Homo sapiens: one gene and its partners. The protein of the gene in region 1 interacts with the protein of each later gene in a pairwise test. Each region holds a gene or a part of one and is shown in the gene's direction. Other genes may lie near its edges.

Region 1 (5,326 bases):
TGAAAAATATGTAAGACCCATACACTGAAAACTACAAAATATTGCTGAGAGAAATTAAAGATCAGTATAAGTGAGAGATAAACCAGATCCATAAATGTAAGACTTAAGATATCACTTCTCCCCAAATTGATGTATAGATTTTATGTAATTAAAGTAAAAACCCAAGCATGCTTTTTAAAAATATTTAATTGAAGCTGATTCTAAAGTTTACATGGAAATTTGAAGACTCTAAAGTACCCAAAACAGTATTGAGAAAGGAAAACCAAGTTGGTACTATTCAATTTCAAAACATAAAGGAATAGTATTCTAAGAGGTGTGGTGTAAAGGTGACAAATAGATCACTGAAACAGAATAGAGTCTAGAAACAAATTCACACATAGAGATAGTGTTTTGCAAAGATATCAGAGAAATTCAGTGGGGAAAGAATACTCTTTTCAATAAATAGTGCTGAAACAATGAGAGAGTCATGTTTTTAAAAAATGAACCTCAACCTTTACCTCATACAGTATACAAAATTGACTTGAAATGAATCACAGATCTTAATGTATAAACTAAAACTACAAAACCTCTGAAAGGAAACGTAAGAGAAAATCTTAGGGATTTTGGATTGGGAAAGATTTTAAAAATACAACACAAAAAATATAAACTAGAAAAAAATGAGTAAAGTGGACTTCATCAAAATTTAAAACTTCAGTTCTTCAAAAAACACTTATTAAAAATGAAGAAGCAACCAACAGACTGAGAGAAAATATTTGTAAAACATGTACCCGATAAAGGACTTGTATTAGAATGTATAAAGAACTTAAGACAGTATAAATTTTTAAATATCAAGTTGAAAAATGGGCAAAATATTTGAACAGACACTTCACCAAATAAGTGGATATCAAATATGAATATCAAATAAGAATATAGAAAGATGCTTATCAGTAATGATTAGGAAAGTGAAAATTAAAACCATGACAAAATACCACTGCATACCCATTAGAATGGCTAAAATTCAAAATTAATAAATGTTGGGATGTGAAGGATTTCACAATTAACTGATGGGAATGTAAAATAATTTGAACACTTTGGAAAAAAAGTTTGGCAGTTTCTTAGAAATTAAACATATATCTAACATATGATCCAGCCAGTCCACTCCTAGATATTTAAGAGAAGCCAAAGCATGTGTCCACACAGAAACTTGTTGATGAGTGTTCATAGGAAACAACCCAAATGTCTATCAATAGGTGAATGGATAAACAAATAGTGCTATATCCATACAGTAGAATACTACTCAACAATAAAAGGGTAAGAACTATTGATACATGCAACAGCATGGATGAATCCCAAAATTACTATGTTGAGTGAAGCCAGGCTAAAAGAGTATATATTCCATAATTCCATTTATATAAAATTCTAGAATATGCAAACTATAAATAAGTGCTTATCTGGGAGGAGAGAGTTATGAAAAGGGCTATGAGGAAACTTTAGGGGTGATGAATATGTTTTTTGAAAAATTTTTAGCTTTGAGGGTACACGTGAAGGTTTGTTACATAGGTAAACACGTGTCACAGGAGGTTTGTTATACATGTTATTACATCACCCAGGTATTAAGCCCAGTACACAATAGTTATCTTTTCTGCTTTTCTCCCTCCTACCACCTTCCCCTCCCTCCTACCATCCAGACCCCAGTGTCTGTTGTTTCCTTCTTTGTGTTAATAAGTTCTTATCATTTAGCTCCCACTTATAAGTGAGAATGTGGTATTTGCTTTTGTTTCTGCGTTAGTTTACTAAGGATGATAGCCTCCAGTTCCCTTCATGTTCTTGCAAAAAAACATGATCTCATTCTTTTTTATGGCTGCTGATGGATATCTTAATTGTGATGGTGGTTTTACTACATCATATGGCAGAAAATAAAATGACACACTTTAAATTTATGTAGTTTATAGTATGTCAGTTTTATCTCAAGCTGTCTAAAAAAAAAAGAATGACTTGAATAAAAGAAATATTTGCCTAAGTAGCAGCAGTTCTTTTCCTTTTTTAAAATCCAGTATATTTAAATTTCGTACATATCTTAAAATAGCATGTGTAACATCAATTTTTAAAATATCCTTTTTTCTGTTTTTATCATGTATCATTTTAAATAGAATATTTTTTTAAAAGCCTAGCCCTGAAAGCAGGGAATGAGAGGAATGAAAGTAGCTACTTGTACAGTTAGGTTGGAGGGAATTTTTTTAAAATATGGGAAGAGTTTTAATATGTTTCTTGGCTTAGGCACATGAACTGGCAAAGAGGGAGAAACTGCAGATACAGAAGATAAAGGGAGTGGGATAGGAGCAGAGTCCTTGATGGTCTAGGAGGAGAATGGGATCCAGGGCACAGATAAGGCTACTCATCAGACTAGATGGAAAAAATGAGGGCTAATACACATATGGATACACCCTGGGACCAAAGGATGACTGTGTTTGTCCCCAAACCACATTATTTTTAGTGAAAAAAGGAAAGTATACAATTGAGAAGAGGAGGGTAGGAATGAGAGGCTTGCAGTGAATTATTAGAAGTTTAGATTGGTTACGTTTGGGAAGAGAAGAATCTGACCAGGGACATACAAAAGGATTATCGAGGAAAGCTTCTGTTGTAAAGGGGAAACCTTTAAAGAAAATCAGAATTTTATTAAAACAAAAATAAGCTCACATTATACTGTTGTTCTGCAGCTTGCTGCTTTCACTTCATAATGTGTCTCAGAGATCTTTTCACGTCAGTACAAGTGGACCTCTCGCTTTTTTTATTATCTGTGTATTAGTATTTCATATATGGATGTACCATAATTTATGTAGCATTTTAAGTTGTTTCCAACTTGGCACTATTAAATAATTGCTGTTGTGAACATCCTTGTATGTATCTACAAGGTGGGAGATGCTTTTGCACATGTAAAACTGTTTCTGATGCTTGATAACCTAGAAGTAGAATAATTTTGTCAGAGATTATGAACATTTTACATTTTGTTGGACATTTCAAACTGCCATCCAGAATGGTTATACTGATATAATCACATGAATTGAGTTAATTCATTTCCTGTACTATCATCAGAAAATGTTATTTCTTTTTATTTTTGTCAATTCTATGGCCAAAAAGTACCTTCTTTTAAATTTGCAATTCTTCATGTTAGTGAAGATGAGCATTTTTATCATATGCTTATAGGCCATTTCTATTTCTTAGGTGAACTGCTCATTCTTATCCTTTGTCACTTTTTACTAGGTTGCCTTCCTTACTGATTTGTAGGAGTTCTTTAAATGTTATGGACCCCTTGTCTATAACATATGTGCAGGTATTTTCTTTCAGGCTTTTAATTCTACAGGTTTCAAATTTTGCTATGGTTAAATCTTTCGTTCTTTTCCTTGATGCTTGCTGGATATTGAGTTTCACTTAGAAATGCCTTCCCGACTTCAAGATTATGTAGATTTCCCCCTAAAACTTGTATAGTTGGGTTTTGTTTACATATTTTATCACTTTAATCAACTCGAAATTAATATATGTGAGTGATGTGAGGTAGGGTACTATCATTTTAGAGTTAGTACCAAAAATAAATATTTTAAGGCAAAATATTTTTAGGTAAGTAATTCTGGAAAGATAATAGAGGTAACTTTTGTCCCCATAAGCGATAACTTCTTAGAAGTAAAGAAAACACTTGCATATGTTTCTATTTGTGAAGCAGATACATATTGTGAAGTTCATTGTAACAGGGCAGATTTGTAGCCTGTTAATATTCTCGTTACTTAAGACCATTAACTTTTCCATCTAATAAAATTATTAGAAGCATAGATTTGTGTTTCAGCATATGACAAACATCAGGCAGATAGATGTCTGATAGCAGTCAGTGCTTGTAGGTATTCTAGTTGATAGTAATGACAAATCTTTTAAAAAGTAGATGATTAACTACAGTGATGAAGATACACAGAAAGACGATGAGAAACAGCATGAGCAGATAGAAAAGGAAAGAAATAGAAAAAAAACAACAAATCACTGAAGAGACAAAAAAGAGAAATTAACACTTTCCTCATGAGGGTTTTTTTTTTTTTTTTTTTTTTTTTGAGGCAGAGTCTCACTCTTTCGCCAGGCTGGAATGCAGTGGTGCGATCTCACTCACTGCAACCTCCACCTCCCAGGTTCAAGCAATTCTCCTGCCTCAGCCTCCCAAGTAGCTGGGATTACAGGCACGCGCCACTACGCCCAGCTAATTTTTGTATTTTTAGTAGAGATGGGGTTTCGCCATGTTGGCCAGGCTAGTCTCAAACTCCTGACCTCAGGTGATCCGCCCACCTCGACCTCCCAAAGTGCTGGGATTACAGGCGTGAGCCACCGCGCCTGGCCCATGAGGGGAGGTTTTATGTTGTTTCAGGCAACCTTAAAAATTATCTCAGGCCTCATAATAATAGTAGTATGGTTTTGTTTTTGTTTTGTTTATTTAGTTTTTGTCTTTTGGGGATGAGATGGACTTCTGCTGTCTTAGTGGGTTTATGTTTTATCTTTTTTGATAGGCTATCACATGTATACTATTAAATTGGCTTGGTATGCTTGCATTCATAGTTCTTCATTATTTCTTTAGGCAGTTGAGAATTTTGAACCAGCAACTCAGAGAACAACAGAAAACTCAAAAACCATCTGGTGCTGTGGATTGCAACCTTGAATGTAGGTAAAAGAACTTTAAGGATTGATAAATTATTTGTGGCTCCGGAAATGTTGATAAAGAATTGAGCTTTTGTAATTACTTTGAGGGGATAAATTTAAAATATTGTAGAAACATAAGAAAATAAAAGATGCTGTCACTTCCCAATAATATACACCTTTTTTTGTTTGTTTGTTTTGAAATACAGGAGTGTGTTTCCTTTTACATATCTTCTCTTCATATATAATTGATTTATTTAACACTTACTGAATACCTACTGTGTGCCAGGCACAAATAGAACTATATATGTACTTTTTTAAAAATGAGATCACACTGTACATACTTTTCCACAGCTTCTGTTTATTCACTTAACATATAATGGACACTTTTGTCTATCAAAATACATAATTATGCATCTTTCTCTTTAAGAATTACTTGGGTATTCTGCTTATCCAGGTCTACCATAATATGGTCCTTTGCTAATAGTACTTTCCCCTTTTTTCCCAGTGCAAACAACATTGCAGTGAAAATCTTTGTATATGTCTTTGTGCATATATGTCAGCTTTGTTTGTTTGTTTGTTTGTTTGTTTGTTTGTTTTGAGACGGCGTCACTCTGTGGCCCAGGCTGGAGTGCAGTGGTGCGATCGTGTCTCACTGCAACCTCTGCCTCCAAGGTTC
Region 2 (5,326 bases), on another chromosome or scaffold:
AGAACAGACCAGTGCCTTGGTTAAGGAACAGGAGCCCTTCTGTGCTCCCTTCACTCCTTACTGGCTCCCTGCTGTACTTCTGAGGAAAGTGAAAGCCCTTCCGCTTCCTATTTCTTATTGAAATATCTTGCACTTCAAGAAAAAGAGTTTGGTTCTTAATCCTTTCCTGAGATTCCTTATTTGATCTCCCGTTCCCAACTCTCAGTAAATTTCTGCCCCAGGCTCCTTGAGAATGGGTTGGATATTGAGGATGTTGAAAATTTAGTACTATATTCTTTTGACCAGGGGTTTCTGAGGGAGTCAGCAGAGTTTTGTCTGCTTTGGTGTGGCTAAGAGGGTCAGTTGAATATGGGCATCTCTTTCCCTTTCCTTGATCCCACACTGAATGAACCTGTGTGATTTCCCCACTTCTCTGCTCCTTGCAGACCCCTTGTCTGTGTCCCCTGCCCGCTGGGCTGAGGAATATTTGGAGCAATCAGAGGAGAAGCTGTGGCTGGGAGAACCTGAGGGAACAGCCACCGATCGCTGGTGAGTTCAGATACCTCTTTCCGAATCCCGTGAAAGGAGTATGGACAGTTTTCCCAGCCTCCTCCATCCACGTTCTCGAACCAACTTACTTTATTCTTTTTTTTTTTTTTTTTTATCATTCTTGGGTGTTTCTTGCAGAGGGGGATTTGGCAGGGTCATAGGACAATAGTGGAGGGAAGGTCAGCACATAAGCAAGTGAACAAAGGTCTCTGGTTTTCCTAGGCAGAGGACCCTGCGGCCTTCCGCAGTGTTTGTGTCCCTGGGTACTTGAGATTAGGGAGTGGTGATGACTCTTAAAGAGCATGCTGCCTTCAAGCATCTGTTTAACAAAGCACATCTTGCACCGCCCTTAATCCATTTAACCCTGAGTGAACACAGCACATGTTTCAGAGAGCACAGGGTTGGGGGTAAGGTCATAGATCAACAGGATCCCAAGGCAGAAGAATTTTTCTTAGTACAGAACAAAATGAAAAGTCTCCCATGTCTACTTCTTTCTACACAGACACAGCAACCATCGGATTTCTCAATCTTTTCCCCACCTTTCCCCCTTTTCTATTCCACAAAACCGCCATTGTCATCATGGCCCGTTCTCAATGAGCTATTGGGTACACCTCCCAGACGGGGTGGTGGCCAGGCAGAGGGGCTCCTCACTTCCCAGTAGGGGCGGCCGGGCAGAGGCGCCCCTCACCTTCTGGACGGGGCGGCTGGCCGGGCGGGGGGCTGACCCCCACCTCCCTCCCGGACGGGGCGGCTGGCCGGGCAGGGGGCTGACCCCCACCTCCCTCCCGGACGGGGCGGCTGGCCGGGCGGGGGGCTGACCCCCACCTCCCTCCTGGACGGGGCGGCTGGCCGGGCGGGGGGCTGACCCCCCGCCTCCCTCCCGGACGGGGCGGCTGGCCAGGCGGGGGGCTGACCCGCACCTCCCTCCCGGACGGGGCGGCTGGCCGGGCGGGGGGCTGACCCCCACCTCCCTCCCGGACGGGGTGGCTGCCGGGCGGAGACGCTCCTCACTTCCCAGACGGGGCGGCTGCCGGGCAGAGGGTCTCCTCACTTCTCAGACGGGGCGGCCGGGCAGAGACGCTCCTCACCTCCCAGACGGGGTCGCGGCCAGGCAGAGGCGCTCCTCACATCCCAGACGGGGCGGCGGGGCAGAGGCGCTCCTCACATCTCAGACGATGGGTGGTCGGGCAGAGACGCTCCTCACTTCCTCGATGGGATGGCGGCTGGGAAGAGGCGCTCCTCACTTCCTAGATGGGATGGCGGCCGGGCAGAGACGCTCCTCACTTTCCAGACTGGGCAGCCAGGCAGAGGGGCTCCTCACATCCCAGACGATGGGCGGCCAGGCAGAGACGCTCCTCACTTCCCAGATGGGGTGGCGGCCAGGCAGAGGCTGCAATCTCGGCACTTTGGGAGGCCAAGGCAGGCGGCTGGGAGGTGGAGGTTGTAGCGAGCCGAGATCACGCCACTGCACTCCAGCCTGGGCACCATTGAGCACTGAGTGAACGAGACTCCGTCTGCAATCCCGGCACCTCGGGAGGCCGAGGCTGGCGGATCACTCGCGGTTAGGAGCTGGAGACCAGCCCGGCCAACACAGCGAAACCCCGTCTCCACCAAAAAAATACGAAAACCAGTCAGGCATGGCGGCGCGTGCCTGCAATTGCAGGCACTCGGCAGGCTGAAGCAGGAGAATCAGGCAGGGAGGTTGCAGGGAGCCGAGATGGCAGCAGTACAGTCCAGCTTCGGCTCGGCATCAGAGGGAGACCGTGGAAAGAGAGGGGGAGAGAGACCGTAGGGAGAGGGAGAGGGAGAGGGAGAGGGCTTACTTTATTCTTTAAGATTTCCCCTTGGGTTATTACTCCTGTGAATTTATGGTTGAAATGTAGTCAAGGACACAGTGGTTGTGTGCCTGTACTCAGGAAGCTGAGGTGGGAGGATTGCTTGGGCCCAGGAGGTCAAGTCTAGCCCGAGGAACACAGTAAGACCTTGTCTTTAAAAAACCAAAAGCGCATGCATGTGTGCGTGCACACACACACACGCACACACATATATACACACATACACATATGTACACACGCATACATACACATACATGTGCACATACATGTATATACACACGTATACATATGTAAACATGTAGATACATGCGTACACATGTATACACACACATAGACATACATGTATACACACATACACATACACATGTATATACATACACACATACACGTATATATACATATCAGCTATATTTGGGAGGAAGGGAGTTTTCAGACTTTTAAAATATATGTATATAGGTAAATATATATATATTTTTCAAGAATCCTAACTATCCTATATGACGTTCATAACTTCATCTTAAAGTTCATAATTTTACCTTGTTCCCTTCTTAATTTTGAGCCTGCTACTATCCCATCTGTATGCAAAGATATGTTTGGGAAAGGGAGAGCTAGAAGGATGTAGCTAGTACTTTCACACTCCTGCCCAAATGTCCTTCTATAATGCAAATTGGAGTTTGTAGGTTCTCAACAGGAGAATGGAGTTCCCTCACAGGAACTGTCATTGTCATGGGCTAGGAGTGGGGAGTAGCATGGGGAGGGTGATGGCAGACTAATGTGTAAAATTAGTTCTTACCCGTTCCAGGTATGATGAATATCATCCTGAGGAGGATCTGCAGCACACGGCCAGTGACTTTGTGGCCAAAGTGGATGACCCCAAATTGGCTAATTCTGAGGTGAGCCACATCCCTCTGCTGCTTTGCCCAGCAGAGCTGGTTTTGGAAGGCAAGAATCTTGCTTTTCTTACCCCAGTTTAGTTTAAAGAGAAGGAGAAGAGATCTTAGGTCTCTTCGTTCCTGTCTATAGAACAGAGACTTAAGATCCTGCCTCTTCCTTCTAGTGTTCATTCCCTCATCTCCTTGCCTACTAACTCTTTTTTCTGATGCCTTTGCAAGTCTTTAGAGCCAGAAATCCCTTTCTTTTTGCTCTCTACCTCTTTTAGGGTCTTTAGCATATCTTGTCTGCAGCTAGAGATGGTCAGGGGAGGGGTGAGTACAGGGTCCTCTTGGGCATGGTTGAGAGTGCACACCTGGAAGTCCTTTCCCAAGTGGCCTGTGTGTGTCTCTGTGCCCCAGTTCCTGAAATTCGTGCGGCAGATTGGCGAAGGGCAGGTGTCCCTGGAGTCCGGTGCAGGGTCGGGCCGAGCTCAGGCAGAACAGTGGGCAGCAGAGTTTATACAGCAGCAGGTAGGACATTGTCACTTTCCAGTCCCACTTCAGAGCCAGCTGATGCCCCAGGCCATGGGTTCAGTGGTCAGTGGTCCCAGATGGGGAAGGATAAGACCAGCTTGTCTTGATAGCATCCAGGTCCCAAGTGGGTGGGAAAGAGATTCTGAGAATGATTTTCTCAGAAGTACCCAGGTTGGTGGTGGTTAGTGGGTATTTAGTGTGCGTCTGATGGATAGAAAGTTGGTGGTAGTGGTACTGACCATCCTTTTTTGTCGCAGGGTACATCAGATGCCTGGGTTGACCAGTTCACAAGACCAGTAAACACATCTGCCCTTGATATGGAGTTTGAACGAGCCAAGTCAGCTATAGAGGTGAGAGCAGATAGTGCAGGAGCAGACACCCCAAAAGAAAACACTCCTTGGAGTGAGTGGGTGTATGAACATCAAAGATGATGCAAATTGTATTTCATAGTGGACCTGGATCATCTGTGTCAGAGTTGCTTGGGGATGGGGTGGGTGCTGTTGAAAAATGCAGATTTCTGGGCCAGGCATGGTGGCTCATGCCTGTAATCTCAGCACTTTGGGAGCCCGAGGTGGGTGGATCACCTGAGGTTAGGAGTTCGAGACCAGTCTGAACAACATGGAGAAACCCCATGTCTCTACTAAAAATACAAAATTAGCGTGGTGTGTTGGCGCATGCCTGTAATCCCAGCTACTTGGGAGGCTGAGGCAGGAGAAATGTTTGAAACTGGGAGGTGGAGGTTGCAACGAGATGAGATCACGCCATTGCACTCTAGCCTGGGCAACGAGAGTGAAACTCTGTCTCAAACAAAAAACTAAACTAAACTATGCACTGCACTGCACTGCACTGCACTGCACTGCACTGCACTACATTACATTTCTGGCCATCACCCCAGACTACTAAATCAGTATCTGGGGATAGCATCTGGCCATTTGCATTTTAAAAAACTTATTCAGATGATTCTTAAACATATTGAAATTCAAGAACTGCTGCCTTAGAGAATCCCAGCAGAGCTGAGTGTGGGGTGGGGTGGTCATGATGGATCTCCTTTTTCTATCTGCTTTCCCTTCCTTACAGTCTGATGTCGATTTCTGGGACAAGTTGCAGGCAGAGTTGGAGGAGATGGCAAAACGGGATGCTGAGGCCCACCCCTGGCTTTCTGACTATGATGACCTTACGTCAGCTACCTATGATAAGGTGAGGTAAAAACTCTTAGTTTTTCAGGTTCCAGAACTTCCTTCTTTTTAACGTCTTTCCTTTAATCCTGAATTTGAAGGGTGCTTTTAAGTATTTTCTTGAGTCCCTTTCCACGAAAAGAAGTCTGAATAATTCCCTTGCCCTTCCTCTTCAGTGATTGAGTATAAACTTTATTCTTGGGATATAGATGTTAATGAGACTATCTTTGTCAATAACGACAGTCCAGTACATAACACCTGTGAAGGAGGTTTGCACATGCTTGCTGCATTAAAAGCACAGAGGAAGTAGCTCTGCTTGGAGGTCAGATTGGGAGCTTTTTGAGAAGACTGCTGACTCCTTTGGTGGGGAGTGTTAGTGGAC
Region 3 (5,326 bases), about 11 Mb from region 1:
GTTTGTGGTAAAACTTTCAGGTACTGTTGTCATTTGTCAGTTAACTTTGCTTATGGCACTTTTTCATATAAAAGTTTGTTTTTATGTACTCCTATTTCTCAGACTTTCTCATTGTTCTTCCTGGATTTTGAACTATAGTTTGGACAATTTTTTAAAAACTTTAATATTTTGAAAAGTTTCTCTAATACCTTATTTACTGGTATCAGTTTAATTAGGAGCCTTTCTGGAAAATGCTTAGTAATACTGATTGTTCATCGGAACAGCCATAGTTTACTGGCCATGGTATATCTGACACAATCATAGAGCTTTGTAATGAAAACGACACCAAGGCAGGTACAGGGACAGAGAGCATTGTTATCCTCCTTTAGACTTGAAGGTTAGGCATATCCCTTCTCTTAGTATGTACACATTTATTCATAATTCTGTCTGGAGTTTTTATTTTCTTCCTGTGTCCCATTTTGTGAATAATTTGGTCTTGGGCATATACTATGATATTTTTCCTGATCTGTAAAATGATAAAGTTAAATTAGAGGCCTGAAGTGCTTTCTAGCTCATAAAGTCTATGTTAATGAATTTCAAAGATTTGCCTATTATAAGACATTCTATTTGTATTCTTTTTTTTTTTTTTTTTTTTTGAGACGGAGTTTTGCTCTGTCGCCCAGGCTGGAGTGCAGTGGCGCGATCTTGACTCACTGCAAGCTCCGCCTCCCGGGTTCACGCCATTCTCCTGCCTCAGCCTCCCGTGTAGCTGGGACTACAGGCGCGCGCCACCATGCCCGGCTAATTTTTGTATTTTTAGTAGAGACGGGGTTTCACCGTGTTAGCCAGGATGGTCTAATTTTATGTAATTATATGGCACATGCAAAGAAGAAATCAAAGTGACATAGTGCATAGAGTTGAATGATGGTCAGGTTGGTTAGGAAAAGAATCAGTGATATAACTATGAGCAACTCAGATGACAAACATCCACAGAAAATCAGCCCTTACTATTTGCCTGATCCTGAGAATTGATGGTGTTTGGCACCAGGCAGATGGTGAAGGTATTACAGAAACACTTTGCACATTAGTAAGTTTACTTTATTTCTCACATAGGATATTACTGGTCCACTTCCCTCCTTTTTTTTTTTTTTTTTAAACAGGAATCTCTATCTTAGACCATTTTGATTTCTAAAATAGCAATATTTCTTATGTGACTATTTCATTATTGTGCTGCTGCCACCTGGTGGCCACAGTAGTGATGTCATACTTCAGTTTAATTTCTTTTTTTATTGCAAAGACACTATTAAGCCAAAAGATAGGCTGATATATTTTAAGATATAGAATACTGTAAAATATATAAAGGTTGCACATCGATTGTGACTCAATTGATTGCCACAATGTCTAGGTTGAATCCAGGACTATAATTTTTAGTTTATCATAGTCAAGTTATTTAACTCTCTAAGCCTGTTTTCTCAAAGTAATAGTATCTGTCTTTTATGAGTATAGTGAAGATTGATTTAGACAATGTGTACAAGGCAGCTGTTGAACATTCAGTAACTTAACTTCTAAGTATATTATTAAATAGTCATAGAAAATATATTAATGTATATTACTAAATATATTAATGTTTAAGAATAACATGACCTAAATAAGTATAATTTTACTAATGATAATTTTGAATAACTGTGATAGCACTGTCAATAAGAATAGCACTTTCCTACATGTTAGTTAAGTATCCGTGTATGGTTGTCAGGAGCATGCTACTTACAGTGGACATTTAATTGGCTGTTAGAACCCATGAAAAAGCTGGAAGAAACCTTAGAGAATATTGTTCATGCCCCTCATTTTGCAGATGTTAAAACAAGTCCGAGAATATAAAGCTAGTTAGTTGCAGAGTAGGACTGTATCCTGGGTCTCCATCTAGTGTGGTGTGGACCGTGTACTGCCTCCCAGTTCTCCTAGAGTGGACCAAAACATGGAATCTTGGTTGCATTGTAGTTGGACTGTATTGTGATTTGAAAGTGGAGTAAAACATGGGAACCTTTTTCTTTAGGTTTTTATTTTTGCAATTTTGGTGTAATATGTAGGATAAACCAACTAGAAAAAAAATCCTCCCTGTCACGTTTGTGCACAAATAATTTAATACTCAGTTTGTTAGTATCTTTAAAAATAGATGCAAATAAGGTGCAGTGGTTCTATTTTCCAGTCTTCTCATTCTCCTCTGTGTCTCTGGAACACCCTGGGCATGTCTCTCACTATATTTATCACACTGGGAAAGCCTTTTTGGCTCATTTTTTTCTGTCCCATACTAGACTATTAATACCTTGAAAGGGGCCATATCTTTCATCACTATATATCTAGTTGTTAGTACAACATTGAATTACGTGTTGAGTAAAATAATCTACTTCTTACAGCAGTATAATTTTTAGATGAGGATTAGCCCAGGGGCAGAACCTCTACACCACAGTCTGGTTATTGTCTTAAGGGTTTAAGGAAAAAGCATTTTGGAATGAAAAGTGGTTTGACATTGAACATTTTGAAGATTTATTATAAAAGGCGAGAAGCATACACATATTAATCAACACTACTGAGTTTAAGGGTCCTCTTTCCTTTCTCACTGTCACCTTTCTTCATGGTGTATCTTACCCTTTATTTTATATTTATTTATTTATTTATTTATTTATTTATTTATTTATTTGAGATGGAATCTCTGTCTGCCACCCAGGCTGTAGTGCAATGGTGTGATCTCGGATCACTGCAACCTCCGCCTCCCGACTTCAAGCGATTTTCCTACCTCAGCCTCCCCATGGCTGGAACTACAGGTGCATGCCACCATGCCCAGCTAATTTTTTTTTTTTTTGGTAGAGGCGGAGTTTTACCATGTTGGCCAGGCTGGTCTCAAACTCCTGACCTCAGGTGATCCGCCTCCCTCGGCCTCCCAAGTTCTAGGATTACAGGCGTGAGCCACCGCACCCAACTGTATCTTGCTGTTTATATGGCAGTCTTCTATCTCCCGTTCCCTCTTTCTCTGCTAGACCCTTCATGTAGTTCCCCAGCTGTGACCAGTTTGCATGGGGGAGAGGGTAGGTAAAAGAGGGAGGGGAGTTAAGTTCAGCCAAAATAATCTGCCACGTGCCATGTTGAAATGCTGCGTTGAGCTCTGCAGCTGCAGAGATGAATAAAATTGGGTTTCTGCCCTGGAGGGATGAATAGTCTAGTAAGGAAAAATAGTATGTAAAAAACTCACTTCCAGTGTGGTGCAACTCCTATGAAAGAACGTATTAAGCACTGGGAGCAAATGAAGTGCAGAGGTGGGAGGGCCCTGTGGCTGCCTTTCGGTGGAGAGAGGATGTTGCATGCAGGAAGCTCTATGAGCCTGTCTTCAGGAGTGAGTAGGCTTTCCCATGATAGACCAAAGAGTTTAATCTCAGTACACTTCGCATTTTTTATACTATCTCTTTAATTTTTAAAAAGCTATACTTTCCCTCTGACATGTGTGAACCCATTTCTTTCTCATTTTGTTAAGGGAGTTTGTGTATCCGTCTGCTAGAGAGATCCCACCTCCACCCCTGCTCACCCGACATTAGGAATTAGGCAAAGAACAATGAGATATTTGATATTTACACGGAGAGAGTGTCAACCGCAATTCAGATATTTTTAAGTTATTCTGTTTTAGTCCGAAATAGTTTGTTCCTAGTATTCCTGAAGTGATGTTCTTTGACTGCTTCTACAGTCATCTTAAGAAGTGCTGCATTTTTTCATTATTATGTATGCTTTCATTCACATTCTTAAGTTGTAAGTTAGAATGTTAGAACTGAAGAAATGAATTGTCTCATGACTGATATTTTTTTCTTTGTCAGTTGCCAAAACAAAGGGGATTTGGTGATGGAGGCTTTGTTAGAAGGAATACAAAATCGAGGGCATGGTGGGTAAGTTTGCTTTTTTTAAAATTAATTTTTTTGGTTAATACATGATTACATATTTATAGGGTTCACATGATACTTTGATACATACATATAATGTGTAATGATCAAATAAGGGTATTTAGTATACCTATCAGCTCAAGCATTTATCATTTTTTGTGTTGGGAACATTTCAATTCTTCTAGCTACTTTGAAATATATAGTAAATTTTTAAAGTTTAAGGAACCTTACTGTGCTAGTCACCCGACTGTGCTAATTACTTAACTAGTTACATACTAGTTACTTAGTAGTCACCTTACTGTGCTATTTAACACTAGAGCTTACTCTTCTACCTAACTGTATGGTTTGTACCCATTAACCAAACATTCTTCACCCCCAACCCCTTCCCAGCCTCTGGTAACCATCGTTCTACTCTCTACCTCCATGAGGTGAACTTTTTTAGACCCCACATATGAATGAGAACATGAGATATTTGTCTTTCTGTGCCTATTATTTCACTTAACGACCACCAGTTTTATCCATGTTGCTGCAAATAACAGGGCTTCATTCTTTTTTATGGCTGAATAGTATTCCATGATGGATATATTTCTGACATTTTCTTTATCCATTAATCTGCTGTTGGACACTCAAGTCAATTCCATATCTTGGTTATTGTGAATAATGCTGCAATAAACATGGGGGTACAAGTATCCCTTTCACATACTGATTTCCTTTCCTTTGGATAGATTACCCAATAGTGTGCTTTCTGAATCATATGTGTTGTGAGTGGTGCAAAGTCAGACATAACCAGGTCCATACATGTTTGTGTCTTTTCTACAAGAGCAAACTTTTATTGATGCTATTTCAGTCATAAAAGCCACAAGCTACATGGAGTTCCCAAGGAGGCATTTCCCCCTAGTACTACCAGTTCACTCAATAGTCAGAGCCATGGGCATACAGGCTCAAGCCTCTCCACAAGTCAGTCAGTATTGCAAACCATACATAATAGTGTATTAATATATGTAAATGTTGCAGTGTAAACATTCCACATCAAACAAAGTAACATTTAACAGGAGAAAAGGATAGAAAAAAAAGGGGGGGGGGGCTAAAGAACTAGTCCAAAGAGAACAACTGGACAAAGAGAATATTCTGGCCTGATCTGGACGGTTGTCAACATTCTTGCAAGGAGGAGCCTTTGGTGACAGATGCCAGGTGCTGATCACAAGTGACAGCCAGACAGGCTGTTATCAAGACAGCTGTTTTGAGCTGGTAAAGTCTTGCTCTTTTTGTGGCCACAGAATCTTCTGGTGATAACTGATAGTGAAATATTGTGCCTGTTTATGTCATTATCTGATTGAGTGCAGTCTTTATTGATAAGGTGAACATCGGGTCCCTGTGGGCATGATGTCTTTTGAAATGTGAGATGCAATCTCTTTCTAAAATGG
Region 4 (5,326 bases), on another chromosome or scaffold:
ACAAAAGTTAGCCAGGCATTGTGGTGGGTGCCTGTAATCCCAGCTACTCAAGAGGCTGAGGCTGGAGAATTGTTTGAACCCAGGAGGCAGCTGTTGCAGTGAGCTGAGATTGCACCATTGCACTCCAGCCTGGACAACAAGAGTGAAACTCCATTTCACAAAAAAAAAATAAAATAAAATATTTTTAAATGGAAACACATAAAACATAACTACTTTGAATCAGATAATCAATTGTATTACTCTTGTTGACAGTTATGTGGCCCTTAAGAAATATACTCTAATACGGTAAATCTTAGATATTATTATCTTCCATCTATTATTTACAATTTTTACAATTTACCATCTCTCTCATATCATGAGATTCTAAGTTTTAGACCATGTTAATGTTTCTTTTTTGCTGGTTCGTGTTTTCAAGATTTGGCAAACCAAATGAAGGTTTTTTTTATTTTTCTCATACTTATTTTTTTCTGTGCTCAGCTTCAGATAAACCAGTCGATCATTTTCTGTAACTCCTCTCAGCGAGTTGAATTGCTAGCCAAGAAGATTTCTCAACTGGGTTATTCTTGCTTCTATATTCATGCTAAAATGAGGCAGGTGAGTATAAAACTAGAACTTGCACAAATTTAATAAGAAATCTCTTTCTTTATTTTGTTTTAATGTTCTTTTAAATGTCCTGAGTTTAAGAATAAACTGTTCCTTAGTAGCCAAAGGACCTTTCATTTTGACCTCCCTCAGGTTCAATTTTCTAGCAATAAAATAGGGATAATAGTACATATTCATAACTTACAAGGTTGTTAGGAAAATTAAGATAAATGTTTAAATGAGTACTTTGGAAGCTGTCAGGCATGATACAAATGTAAAATTTTATTCTTCCCTTCCTTTCCATGTTTAATTCTCTGTTTAATACAGTAAATAGCCACATGTGGCAATTTAAATCAGTTAAAATTAAAATAAAAAGTCAGTTTCTCAATCACAGCCACATTTCAAGTGCTCAGTTAGGCACCTGTTGCTACTGGATAGTGTATTGGAATTGGAAGTACAGACACAAATATTTCCTTTATTATAGAAGTTTTACTGGACAGCACTGCTCTGGATTTTTAAATATGGCCCCTCAGCTGGCTGATTTTTCTTTTTTTCTTTACTGTTTGCCTTTAGAAAAAGATACAATATCTAAATTTCAGAATTTGATTTAGCAAAAAATAATTTAAAACTGTAACAAAAATGACTTTTTTGTTAACTACATTATGAAATTTCGTAAGTAAACAGTTTCTGTAGACGAAGATATCAAGAACTTAACTCATTTGGTTTTGAAAGCAGCTTAATATCATGGATCACTTATAAACAGATTTTGGGTAGAACTGATCGTCTGGGAGAAATAATTATGGGAAATTTGGGGCTGTATATGAGTGTTAATCAAATGGAATACATTGCTTTCTCCTAGGAACATCGAAATCGTGTATTTCATGATTTCCGAAATGGCTTATGCCGCAATCTTGTTTGCACTGGTAAGTATTTTTGTATTTCCTTTACCCAGTGTTTTTCTCCCAAGTTGTTTTTTGCTTTCTCTGTTCATATTACATAGTGCAACCTGTGACATAGTCCGACACACCCTACCACTACTTCTAGGATTTCTGAAGTTGAAAATGAACTCTTGTCAGCTCCTGATACTGGGTTCCATATCTGAAACTTTAGAAGACTTACTCTGGCACTCATACCTCATCTCTGTCTTTTTTTTGGGGGGGGGGGGGAGGGGGATGGAATCTTTGTCACCCAGGCTGGAGTGCAGTGGTGCGATCTTGGCTCTCTGAAACCTCCACCTCCTGGGTTCAAGTGATTCTCCTGCCTCAGCCTCCCAAGTAGCTGGGATTGTGGGCGCCTGCTACCGCTTAGCCCGGCTAATTTTTGTATTTTTGGTAGAGACAGGGATTTCACCATGTTGGCCAGGCTGGTCTCGAACTCCTGACCTCAGGTGATCTTCCTGCTTTGGTCTCCCAAAGTGCTGGGATTACAGGCTTGAGTGCACCCAGCCTCTTTTAGACACATTTTTTAAAACTTGCTTACAATTACTGGAAAAAAGTAACTTGGGAGCAGAAAGTTATTTATGATAATGTGATTATGAAAGGTAATGCCAGTAATGTGCAAATGCATTTGAATAACTGAATTAAATTAATAAACTTAGGTTATGCTAGAAATATGTGTTAGTATTGTACTGAGAGACATTTCTAAATTGAAAAAATGAAAATTATCTTTTTTTTTTTAAGATCTGTTTACCCGAGGTATTGATATACAAGCTGTGAATGTGGTAATAAACTTTGATTTCCCAAAGCTGGCAGAGACCTATCTCCATCGTATTGGAAGATCAGGTGAGGAAAAAAGAGGTGATATTCTTGGTAGAAGTTCTTTTTTGAGGCGTGTAATGACTAAATTTTGTTCTTTTGTGAAATAGAGTACAGTAGCTATGAGAACAGTGAATTAACAGTAATTCAGTTGTTTGGTATTTAAGACTAATTTCTAATTCTTCTGTAGCATTTATTAAGAAAAGTTAAAATAACTGCTTAATTTGAGATGAAATTAACACATGAGAACTTCACTCATTAGGTGGTATGTTCTGTGACTGTTGTTTAATGTGTATTTTATGGCAGTTTTGACTGCCATTTTGTCATTTGAGAAAGGTGAAATGAAGTACTATTTTGGGCTGCGAAACCTGAAGTTGTAGGGAAACCTGTGTTTGAAGACCATTAAGAAGTTGTTTTGCATACTAAGAATGGCACTGAACATCATTATCAATCCTGTGTGGTTTTGCCACTGCTTGACTTGCACAATTCACATTGATTTTCATATTTTATTCATTAAAATTTTTAAACGCATGTTTTTTAGGTCGCTTTGGTCATCTTGGCTTAGCCATCAACTTGATCACATATGATGATCGCTTCAACCTGAAAAGTATTGAGGAGCAGCTGGGAACAGAAATTAAACCTATTCCGAGCAACATTGATAAGAGCCTGTATGTGGCAGAATACCACAGCGAGCCTGTAGAAGATGAGAAACCTTAACAAGCATGTACGTCCCTGACAGAACAGCTAAGAGGAACCTTTAAATGAGGGAAATCAAAATCTTCTTTCCTGGGGGAAATTTGATGTCACACCATATATAATAGCAATAAAGGGTAAAATACCCACTAGCATAAATGACAGTAAATAATATCTCTTGTGGGAGGTTGTAGTCTCATTCGAGAATCTGTAAATGTTGTTCTTGAATGCAGCTTCCCGGGTAATGTGGTAGATTAGCAGTACTTAAATTCAGAGTCCTAAAATAATGAAAGCAAAAAAGAATGTTTTTCAGCAATTTGTTTTTCTTTTTGAGACAAGGTCTCACTGTCATCCAGGCTGGAGTGCAGTGGTGCAATCATAGCTCACTGCAGCCTGGTTCTCCTGGGCTCCTGAGTAGCTGGAACTGTAGGCACATGCCACCACGCCTGCCTAATGTTTTAAATTTTTGGTAGAAACAAGGTCTTGCTTTGTTGCCTAGGCTGGTCCAGAACTCCTGAACTCCAGCAGTCCTCCTGCCTTGGCTTCCCAAAGTGTTAGGATTATAGGCGCAAGCCACTGTGCCACTGTGCCTGGCCTTTTTTGACAGTTTTGTAGGGGGGATTTTTGTTGTTTTTGTTTTTTGAGAGTCTTGCTCTGTTGCCCAGGCTGGAGTACAGTGGCACAATCACGGCCCACTGCAACCTCTGCCTCCCAGGTTCAAGCGATTCTGGTGCACCTCAGCCTCCCAAGTAGCTGGAATTACAGGCATGCTCCACCATGCCCAGCTAATTTTTGTATTTTTTAGTAGAGTTGGAGTTTCACCATGTTGGCCAGGTTGGTCTTGAACTCCTGACCTCAAGTGATCTACCCGCCTCAGCCTCCTAAAGGGAGGCTGGGATTACAGGTGTGAGCCACCACACTGCCAGCAGTTTTGAATATGAAAGTATTTACATTTCTGAAAATGTAAAATGTTTTTAGCATTTACTCTTAATTTCTAGTAAGTACATTAATCACTCTGATAAAACTATCCATAATACCTTATTAGCAAATGTTTAATCAGATTATGAGGATGGCCATCTTTTTAAAATACCCACTCTGGGCCGGGTGCGGTGGCTCACACCTGTAATCCCAGTACTTTGGGAGGCCGAGGTGGGCGGATCACGAGGTCAAGAGATCGAGACCATCCTGGCCAACATGGTGAAACCCTGTCTCTACTAAAAATACAAAAATTAGCCGGGCATGGTGACACGCACCTGTAGTCCCAGCTACTCGGGAGGCTGAGGCAGGCGAATCACTTGAACCTGGGAGGTGGAGGTTACAGTGAGCTGAGACCGCACCACTGCACTCCAGCCTGGGTGACAAAGCTAGACTCCATCTCAAAAAAAAAAAAAAAAAAAAAGCCACTTGGGCTGGCTCAGTGGCTCACACCTGTAATCCCAGCACTTTGGGAGGCCGAGGTGGGTGGATTACCTGAGGTCAGGACTTCAAGACCAGCCTGGCCAACCTGGTGAGACCCCGTGTCCACTAAAGATACAGAAAATTAGCCAGGCATGGTGGCGGGCGCCTGTAATCCCAGCTAGTCAGGAGGCTGAGGCAGGAGAATCTCTTGAACCTGGGAGGCAGAGGTTGCAGTGAGCCGAGGTCATGCCATTGCACTCGAGCCTGGGCGATAAGAGTGAAACTCTGCCTCATATATAAATAACCCACTCTGATTTCCTAGGTAATAAGAGTGAAACTCCGTCAAATACATAAATAAAATACCCACTCTGATTTCCTGGACAACCTGTCTTCCCATCTTTTTTTTATTTTTATTAAGATGGGATCTCACTATGTTGCCCCGGCTGGTTTCAAACTCCTGGGTTCAAATGATCCTCCCACTTTGGCTTCCCAGAGTGCTGGGATTATAGGTGTGAGCCACCACGCCCTGCCTCTATCATCTTTTGGTGACTATTGGGCTCTAGTTAGAAATGCATGAAACAAGGCTCAGCTTTAAGCAAGGTAGGTTGTTTCAGTATTTCCTAAAGAAAATCTGATTTGACAAAGGATAGTTTCCAAGTTATAGGTGAACATCTTACCTATTTAAGTAACCTAATGTTACTTAAATTTTTTTTCTCTTTCTTTTTTAAATAGAGACGAGGATTTACCATGTTGGCCAGGCTGGTCTCAAACTCCTGACCTCAGGTGATCCGCCCACCTCAGCCTCCCAGAGTGCTGAGATTACTGGCAGGAGCCACCTCACCCAACCAATTGTTACTTAAATAATTTTTAAATTACTCTGTACTCTTTTTTTCCTTAAG

What was found. The genes of interacting proteins can lie anywhere in the genome.
Region 2: the proteins of CCDC14 (region 1) and PEX5 interact in binary tests that used the Homo sapiens proteins (3 or more experiments, as listed by UniProt).
Region 3: the proteins of CCDC14 (region 1) and CEP63 interact in binary tests that used the Homo sapiens proteins (3 or more experiments, as listed by UniProt).
Region 4: the proteins of CCDC14 (region 1) and DDX6 interact in binary tests that used the Homo sapiens proteins (3 or more experiments, as listed by UniProt).

The regions. Positions count from the first base shown.
Region 1 is NC_000003.12:123,933,018-123,938,343, reverse strand, and holds part of CCDC14 (coiled-coil domain-containing protein 14), read left to right. Parts: intron 1-4,588; coding exon 4,589-4,671; intron 4,672-5,326. UniProt on the Homo sapiens protein: Negatively regulates centriole duplication. Negatively regulates CEP63 and CDK2 centrosomal localization.
Region 2 is NC_000012.12:7,198,586-7,203,911, forward strand, and holds part of PEX5 (peroxisomal biogenesis factor 5), read left to right. Parts: intron 1-425; coding exon 426-528; intron 529-3,165; coding exon 3,166-3,256; intron 3,257-3,655; coding exon 3,656-3,766; intron 3,767-4,026; coding exon 4,027-4,119; intron 4,120-4,846; coding exon 4,847-4,966; intron 4,967-5,326.
Region 3 is NC_000003.12:134,491,457-134,496,782, forward strand, and holds part of CEP63 (centrosomal protein of 63 kDa), read left to right. Parts: intron 1-3,839; coding exon of another isoform or gene 3,840-3,864; coding exon 3,865-3,908; intron 3,909-5,326. UniProt on the Homo sapiens protein: Required for normal spindle assembly.
Region 4 is NC_000011.10:118,752,439-118,757,764, reverse strand, and holds part of DDX6 (probable ATP-dependent RNA helicase DDX6), read left to right. Parts: intron 1-477; coding exon 478-594; intron 595-1,441; coding exon 1,442-1,505; intron 1,506-2,261; coding exon 2,262-2,363; intron 2,364-2,877; coding exon 2,878-3,053; 3' UTR 3,054-3,060; intron 3,061-5,326.